2 separate regions of the Homo sapiens genome follow, and region 2 is linked to region 1. The links come from fine-mapping of genetic effects on gene expression. A gene starts in region 1. The other region holds a variant in brackets. All regions are shown on one strand. Distances are between the middles of the regions.

Region 1 (4,403 bases):
GTCTGTCTGTGTTGCTAATGTAAGATGTTAAAGAACTGTCTATGGTTAAAAGAGAATGAGTATCTATTTTTAACAATGTGCTAAATGTTCTTTTCTTCTTTCCATGGTCCAAGATTGTCCTAAACTTTGATTTGATATAATTATTTTCCACAATCCTCTAAGTCAGGCTTTGAAATTCTTCTCTGCCTCTGGGTCTTAGTTTGCTTTGAGGTAAGGATGGCCAGTGTGGATCTTTCTTATATAATCTCTAGGTCTTATATTTTAGTTTCCTACCTGAAAATTTGTGATGCCACTTTTAATCTACGACGGTAAAGGAAAACAATTTCTCTTATATGCTATTTAAGAGTTAGGTATTTAAGATTAAAGGAACTATGTATAAATATCACTTATCCAGAAGTCTTCTGAATATTTCATTTCTCATGGAAATGCTGGATGTTTTTAAGCAACATTATCCATTATAAAACAATTCAAAAAGGGGGAAGAAAATCCTACAAAGATAACAAAAACTGTGAGGTTTTTTTTGTATGAAGTAGCCAATTTTCACAAAAAGTGCTGTTAGCGGTTTATAACACTGCTAGGAAATGTATTTTATATTAAAAATCGCTAACAGCACAGTCATTGTTTTCAAGATGCTTTAGAATGGGAAGAAATGTTCAATCTTTTTAACGTGTATCGGCATGTATAGGGTGTACTCTTTTAAAGAAAAATTTCAACTATTATAAAATCTAAGAAACTTTAAAACTGTGTCATTTATAATGTAAAATTAATGCAGCTGAGATTCAGTGGTTGACTCATAGCTCCCACATTCATCTTCAGTTCTCTTTAGCTCATATGGTTTTCTTTAAAAATTAGTGATATCAGCTAAATGGAACTATTTTCCACTCCTACCCACAGAGAAAAGTGCTTTTGTGAACATGTCAGCTCTGTTCCATCATTACATGCCATCATGCAGTGCAACAGAAGCAGGCTGGCTGTGCATACTTGATAACCAATATTAGTACAGATTTGAGAGCAAAATCCAAAGAAGATAATACTGTATTTCCATCTATTTATTTTATGCACATAAGCCACCTTTTTAGAACCAAGGAATTTTATAGCTAGACAAGATCTTGGAAGTCTTCCAATCTAGCCTCTTTATTTTGTACATATGGAAACTGAGGCACAAAGAGGTTCAGCAACTTCCCCAAGGTCACATAGCTGGTAGAGGTAGGCTGGGACTAGAACCCAGGTCTGTGTGACTCCAAAGTCTGTGCTCCTCCCACTATACTGCTTCACAGATAGGAGCTGATCTGCCTCAAATCTTCTGCCCCTTGGCCTTTCCACAACTCTGCATTGCTGCCATCTAACAGTGCCTTCCACTGGTGCCATGCTAAAGCTCGTTAGGAGGCAACTTAACATTGTTCTGTAAAAGCTCTACAGATGTAGGATGCTAGCTATCTGTTCTCCCCGGAAATCTTTTCAATTCAATTCTGCAAATAACTTAGGCTTTCCCAGACTAAGCAGTTCCTTCTCTCATTCCTGCAATTTGCTTTCCAGTTACCTTCTTCTGGACACATTCATTTCCAGTGCCCCTTCTGTTAAAATGGGCCCCACTAGAATCTCTGTTGCTGGGCACGGTGGCTCACGCCTGTAATCCCGGCACTTTGGGAGGCTGAGGCGGGTGGATCACCTGAGGTGGGGAGTTCAAGACCAGCCTGACCAACATGAAGAAACCCCATCTCTACTAAAAATACAAAATTAGGCAGACATGGTGGCACGTGCTTGTAATCCCACCTACTTGGGAGGCTAAGGCAGGAGAATCGCTTGAGCCCGGGAAGCTGAGGTTGTGGTGAGCCAAGATCGCTTCATTGCACTCTAGCCTGGACAACAAGAGCGAAACTCCGTCTCAAAAAGAAAAAAAAAATTGGCCCCACTCAAAATGGTACTCCTCCAAGTTGCTTTTTCATCCTTGTATTCCCCATGGTCATTCATCCCACTGCTGTCCTTCTGTCTCCAAGTCCTCTTTGCCTTGCTTCCTTCCCTCTCAACCCACAGCATCAGAGCAGTTTCTCCCCCAGCTGACCCTCTTTCCACTTTCAGTGCTCAATATTTTTTACTTTGCCTGTGGAAATGATCTCTTAACTGGTTTCCTTAAGTCCCTCCAGAAATGTTTTTCTAAACTCCAACAACTGTGCAAGGTCTAATTGCCATTGGTTTATCACCCACTGGACCCAGAAGCACCATCCTGGATTCTGCTTCTGCATACCCCTGTCAGCTCTGTGTCTTTAGGGACATCATTTAAACCTTCAGCTTCACTTTCTCCACTTATAGAATGAAGATGAGGAACAAGAACATCAATCTTTGAAATGATGCCAAGTATAAGCCTCTGTGTGTGTGTCTCCCCACTCCAATTTGTCCAACAGACTGCTTCCAAAGAAATCTTCCTAAAACACTGACCATCTTTTTTTTTTTTTTTTTTGGCTGCAAAATCTTTCATTTCCTCATCCCCTCACATAACTTCCAATCTTCTTGGCCTGGCACTAAGGACCTACTACAGACTGGCACTGAAATATCTTCCCTACCTTATCATTCCTTGTGCTTCTCCACAAGCCCACTCTTCCCCTTCATCATACATGTGCCGACCTTTCCTGTCTCTTTTACTTTGCAGCACCAAATGCTTTCTACTTTGTGGTCTAGGAGGAACACATGTCACTTTTGTAAGCTGCTCGAAAGCAGGGGCCACACCTTCATCCTTGTTTTCCACACAACACCAAGCACTTAGTAGACACCCAATAAATCATTGCTGAATGAATGTATTCAGCCTGGAATTGCACTAGGATTTTTTGGCCAACACATTGTATTCTTAACTGATACCAGACTTCCAATCAAATAAAATCCTTAAGCCTTTTTCATAGTCTTTAATTAAACTACTTCTCTTCCATTATTTCCCTTTGCCTACTTTTGAACTGATATTCAGAACTTTTCTGTTAATGTTTAATTTTCATCCATTATTCTTGTCTGTACAGATCTTTTTGATTTTTGACTCTCTTATCTAGTTTTTTTTTTTTTTTTTTGGCTTCCCGTTGTGTTATCCACAGGCACAATGGGTATATTGACTATCGTTCATTGAAGTTGTTGATACAAATGTTGAACAGGAGAAAAACCAGTAGCTTGCCAACTTGGCACCTCATTCTCTAGCTTGACAGTAATCTCTTATCTAGTAGTTTTTAGATATGGTTATTTAATCAAATATCACTAGCTTCTAATTTTGTTATAATTCATTCATGTATACAGACAATGAAGAATCATCTTTCTTCATTCAACACATTTATTGGGAACCAATCATTGTCCAAGGCAATATGCTAGGCATTGTGTAATAGAAAGCGATTAAGCTTTTACCCCTGTCCTCTTTGGCCTGCAAAGAGCAGGTAAGATTCATGCACAGACAAATGTAGTACCAGGTAAATAGTGAGGCCAAACACAAGAGGCAGGTCAAAGGGCTTTGGATTCAGAGGATGGAGAAGCTCTTTCTAGGCTGGTGAAATATTTGCAGAATGAGTAGGCTCATAAGTGGAGGTGAGGTACAGGCTAAGCTGCTGTAAGAAAGAGTCCAAAATGCAAAGGATTTACCACAATGCAGTTAATTTTTCTCACAACGGTCGAGGTAGGCAGGTGGTCCAAGTCCAGTTAATCAGCCCTCCTCAACACAAGGCTTCCCCTTGTAAGCTCAGGATGACCGCTCCAGTTCTCATCATCTCCCAGGCAGAAAAACGGGAGAAAGAGAACTAGACGTACCACCCAGTCATTTTAAGGACATAGCCAGGCCAGGTGCAGTGACTCACATCTGTAATCCAAGCACTTTGGGAGGTCGAGGCTGGAGGATAGCTTGAAGCCAGGAGTTTGAGACCAGCTTGGATAAGAAAGCAAGACCTTGTCTCTACAAAAAATTTAAAAATTAACCATGTGTGGTGGTGTGCACCTATAGTCCCAGCTACTCAGGAGGCTGAGGTGGAAGGATCACTTGAGCACAGGAGTTGGAGGATACAGTGAGCCATGATCACACCACCTCACTCCAGCCTGGGCAACATAGTGAGACCCCATCTCTTTAAAAAACAAAACAAAAAAACATCACCAGGAAGTTGCTTACATGTCTTCTATTCCTATAACATCGGCCTGAGCTTAGTCACATGGCCACACCCAGCAGAAAGAACTCTAGGAAATATGGTCTTATGCTAGGTAACCCCAAACCCAGCTAAAACTGTTGCTTTTGAAGAAGGGTGAAACAGACAATGTGGAGGAGAATTACCAGTCTGCCACAAAGAGAAAGAATTCTATGTGAGGAAAACGCTCTAGAAGAGGGAGCTGATTAATTAGTTATATCTCAGCCGAGAGGATGTTATGAGAAACACAGATTTGGGTTTAAT
Region 2 (4,403 bases), 25 kb before region 1:
GATTAAACTTGTTTCCATTCTCTTCACATGGATATTCATCCCCATGTTTAACTGACACACTGGGGGCTCAGTTGTGTGCTGTAATGTCTTATTAAAGAAGATATTAAAGAAAACTAAACTAGTCTAATTTCTTCTACATTTTAAGAGGTTTTTATATTCCCACTTTTTTTTTTCTCCTTTCTGAGCTTAGAATTGGCTCTTAAGTATAGGTTGGTAGATTTGAGGGTAGCAAGAGATTTCTTTCATTTCTCGTTTTCCCTGCAGTCTTTCCCTTTTTGAGGTCTGTAGAATACTTGGGTGGAAAAAAACTTGTCATTTTGAAACCTTACTGTATAGAATAAGTGTGAATTGTTGGAAAGGGGGAAGTGATTGGCTATTAACATAAAAATACAATTATGAAAAATACTTAGGTCAGTTAATTGAATTGGATGGGTAAGTCCTTGATGATATTGTAAGATTTGAAGTTTTAGTTTTATATTAAAGATACTATATAGGTAATTAATGACATCATAATTCAAACCTGAGATGCAGCATAAGATAGAATTTATCAACATTACTATTTTACCTAGGAAAACCCATGTTTTTAATTTTCATTAATATATGTAATGTGGCCAGGTGCAGTGGCTCACGCCTGTAATCGCAGCACTTTGGGAGGCTGAGGTGGATGGATCACTTGAGGTCAGGAGTTCGAGACCAGCCTGGCCAACATGGCAAGACCCCATCTCTACTAAAAATACAAAAATTAGCGGGGCCTAGTAGCACATGCTTATAATCCCAGCTACTCAGGAAGCTCAGGCAGGAGAATGGCTTGAACCCGGGAGGCGGAGGTTACAGTGAGCCAAGATCTTACCATTGCACTTCAGCCTGGGCAACAGAGCGAGACTCACTCTCTCTCTCTCTCTCTCTCTCTCTCTCTCTCCATATATATATATATATAATATACTGTACCTATTTTTAAATGTGGATAAAGGCCTTTTTCTATAACACAGTGATCAAACACAGTCCAAACTATAACTGAAATACTATATTTAAACCACCCAGTCTGAATTAATTCATTTGTACTAGATTTCTGGTTTTTTGGAAAGTGTTTGGTTTAGTTTTGGTCAGAGTACTTTTTTGGTCATGTACTTTTTAACAGTATATGGCAATGAAGATCAACACCAGGGAGTTGTGTTTACTGTGACTTCACATTCTGAAATAGTTTAGGCTACCTTAATTTTATTTATTGTAAAAGTTTCAGAAAAATCTTAAGAGCCTTCAGTTTGTAGGTTTAATGAAAACATCTGTCTACTTAACAAAGAAAATAGACTTTTTTAAATAAAAGTTCAACCTGTCATTTTTAATTGTAGATTGCCATGTTAAATTGAAAATATTTTTTATTTTAAATGTTGTTTTGATAAGTTTTTTTTACTGAGGTATCCTTCTTTTTTTTTTTTTTGAATAGCCATTTTTTAGCTTCTATTCTTTGAATACCGTATGGCTCCAAATTTAAAATCTGCACATTCGGAGACAGACTTTGGTCATTTCTTTATATTCACATGGGAATATCTTCAGTATGAAGTAATTGTTAATTCTGTCATTAACTAATATTATTTGAGGGTTGTAGGGAGGAAGAATATCTTTATCCCAGATCTTTCTAGGATGAACTCTTTGAGAAGTTTAAGTCACTAAGGTATTTATTGAAAATCATATATGTGAAGTTGCATTGTGAGCTGTAAAGTATTATATAAAAGCAATGTATTATACAAAGAAATATAGCAAAGTTCCCTAATCTTTGGAAATTCAGATGCATTCTGGAGATAATACATATATTTATTTACATAATTTTAGGCTATATGGCCAAGTGCTTGGTGTGTTTTATAGACAATAACTTAATGAGGTATATGTACATGTGTGCGTTTATGTGTATATAGGATGGCTTTGGGTTGAAGAGGGCAGTCTGTGCCTGGAAGTATGGGGAGTCAGCTGAGGGAGGAGTAGGAAGGAATAGGGAAATCAAGGTGTGGGTGGCTGATTGAGCAAAAGTACATAAAGTTTCTTTGAGA[G/A]AAAGTGAGTAGGCAAGCCCGAGCACAAGGCTTGTGAATGAGAGCCTTTGATCCCGTGGATGAGAGTGGGGAGAATCGTTAGAATGGGACCAGATTGTGCAATGCGTGCACACTGCAGAAAATTGTTCAAATTACTCCTGACACTGGGGACTCTTTCAGGGTTTGGGAACGGGAGTGACATGATGAAAGTATGTCAGGAAGATTTATATTAATGAAATACTGTGTCGATACTGGTTTGATGGAGATCTTCTTACAACCTCTTGTATGTTTCTCTATTTAACAGTTTACTATCATAATACAACTTTTGGTTATTCTAGGTTATTATGAATATAGATTAATGGGCAAGAATTTTGCTGTGCTCTAATGCAGTGATACTACTAATGCCCAAAAAGCTGTATTTAGGGATGTTTGTCCCTGCACTAAATAACCCCAGACTATAGTGTGGCTATACACGACATTTCTTGTCTTCTACTTCACTATAAAAGTAACACATTTTGAAATATATCTCATATATAAAAATGTGAAGACTGTGGTAAGGTTGGATTTTACAAATTGACCAGTACAAAACATTTTGAGGAATAGTATCCATGTCTGTCTCTCTCTCTCTCTCTCATTCTTACCACATAGATTTTTTTAAATTAATGCATGTTTTTGAATTTTGTAGTCACTTTTTTCATATTATGTCTTTGTACTCTGCCATTTCATTTAACAACATAACAGGTGGGTTTTTCGTGTTATAAACTGTGCTAAGTGGAATTTTTGTGGCTGCATAATGATCCATTGGGTAGATTACCTGTAGTTTTTTTTAACCATTTTCCTGTTGTAGGACATTTAGGTTTTCTCTTATTTGTGCAGAAGGCTTCATTTCTACATTTAGAATTACACATCATAAAACTTTAAAGCTCTTCTGAAAAGTGTACAATACTTTATTAAAATAGCAAATGAGAGAGAACCAGAGTTGCAGACCGTATAGTATATAGGACCAGGCAATACTTGACCAATGATGTTTTGCATGTTACTGCATTACCTTTGTTTGAATACTAGCACTTTTTCCTGAATTTGGTAGGTTAACCCTTGTATATTTCCTTGATTTCTAGTGGAGCAGGAATATTTTAACTGCATTTGTTAGCCAGATACAGTTACTATTTTGTGAATTGTCCATTGCCCATTTATTTGTTGGGGCCTTCTGACTATATTCAATCTGCTATCCACAGTAAACTTGGAACAACTGAGAGTTGCCAGGAAACACCAGATAACTAGAGTTATGAAACCTGTAACTTATTTTACACAGAGAACAAAATTGTAGGCTCTGTCTGAACCACTTGCTGGAAGCCTTAACTATCAGATAAAGTATAAATCCACAGTTTGCATTTAAGGCATATTTTTTATTCAAGACTATTGAAATATGTTTTTTATTGTTACCTGACTACTATGAAGAAATAGTATTTTTATTAGATTAAGTCAGTTTAGTAAGTTACAGTAACAAAATAACCTTTCATGTTTGGGATCTGTCTTTTATTAGGTTCTATTATTTAATATTTATGTATGCGGATTTTCATAGTAACAAAATAGACTGTATTTAAGCCTTGCTTTGAATAGCCAGGAACATTTCTGATAGCAACAGAGTTTCTTACTTAAATAGGATAGAAAATGGCCAAACATAAGAATTTAAAGCTGTAGTCGAATGACCCAGTGAGAAAAATGGAAAACACCTAAGTTCAAATCTGGCTCTGCTTTTTCCTTTCTCATTTTGGACAGGTTACTTCACCTTTCTGAGTTGCATTATCTTTAGTCACCTTATAAAATGCAGGAACTGGCCAGGTGTGGTGGCACATACCTGTAATCCCAGCACTTTGGGAGGCCGAGGCGGGTGGATCACGAGGTCAGGAGTTCAAGACCAGCCTGGCCAAGATGGTGAAACCCAGTCTCTACTAAAAATACAAAAATTAGCCAGGTGTGGTGGCAGGCGCCTGTAATCCCAGCTACTTGGGAGGCTGAGGCAGAGAATTCCTTGAACCTGGGAGGCAGAGGTTGCAGTGAGCTGAGATCGTGCCACTACGCTCCAGCCTGGGCAACAGAGTGAGACTCTGTCTCAAAAAAAAAAAAAAAAAAATACAGAAACTAATACCTCCCTCAAATGATTGTTTTAAGTTAACAAGCAAATGAAATAATGAGTATAAACACCACCTGTGCAATCATAAATGCTCAATAGCTGTTAGCTTTCTTCCCACTGTCTTCCTATCCCTCCTCCCTCTACTGAAATTAACACAGTGTGTCTTTACACATACCCTTCTCACATTTGCCCATTTCTGCTTGTGCTTTTTCGTAGGACTAAAATGCTCTCTCTTCTCCCCCACT

The links. PIP is the estimated chance that this variant, and not a neighbour inherited with it, causes the effect.
Region 2: its variant is fine-mapped to the expression of ZNNT1 in whole blood (TOPMed, PIP 0.96).

The regions. Positions count from the first base shown.
Region 1 is chr8:101,167,549-101,171,951 of GRCh38, reverse strand. ZNNT1 (ZNF706 neighboring transcript 1) reads left to right here and starts at 1,713. Exons shown (of 1, transcript NR_164368.1): 1 at 1,713-4,403.
Region 2 is chr8:101,192,762-101,197,164 of GRCh38, reverse strand. ZNF706 (zinc finger protein 706) reads left to right here. Exons shown (of 4, transcript NM_016096.5): 4 at 1-113. Among named protein-coding and RNA genes, the nearest start is that of ZNF706, 11 kb to the left of the region's middle. The variant G/A (reference allele first, on the strand shown) is at 2,046.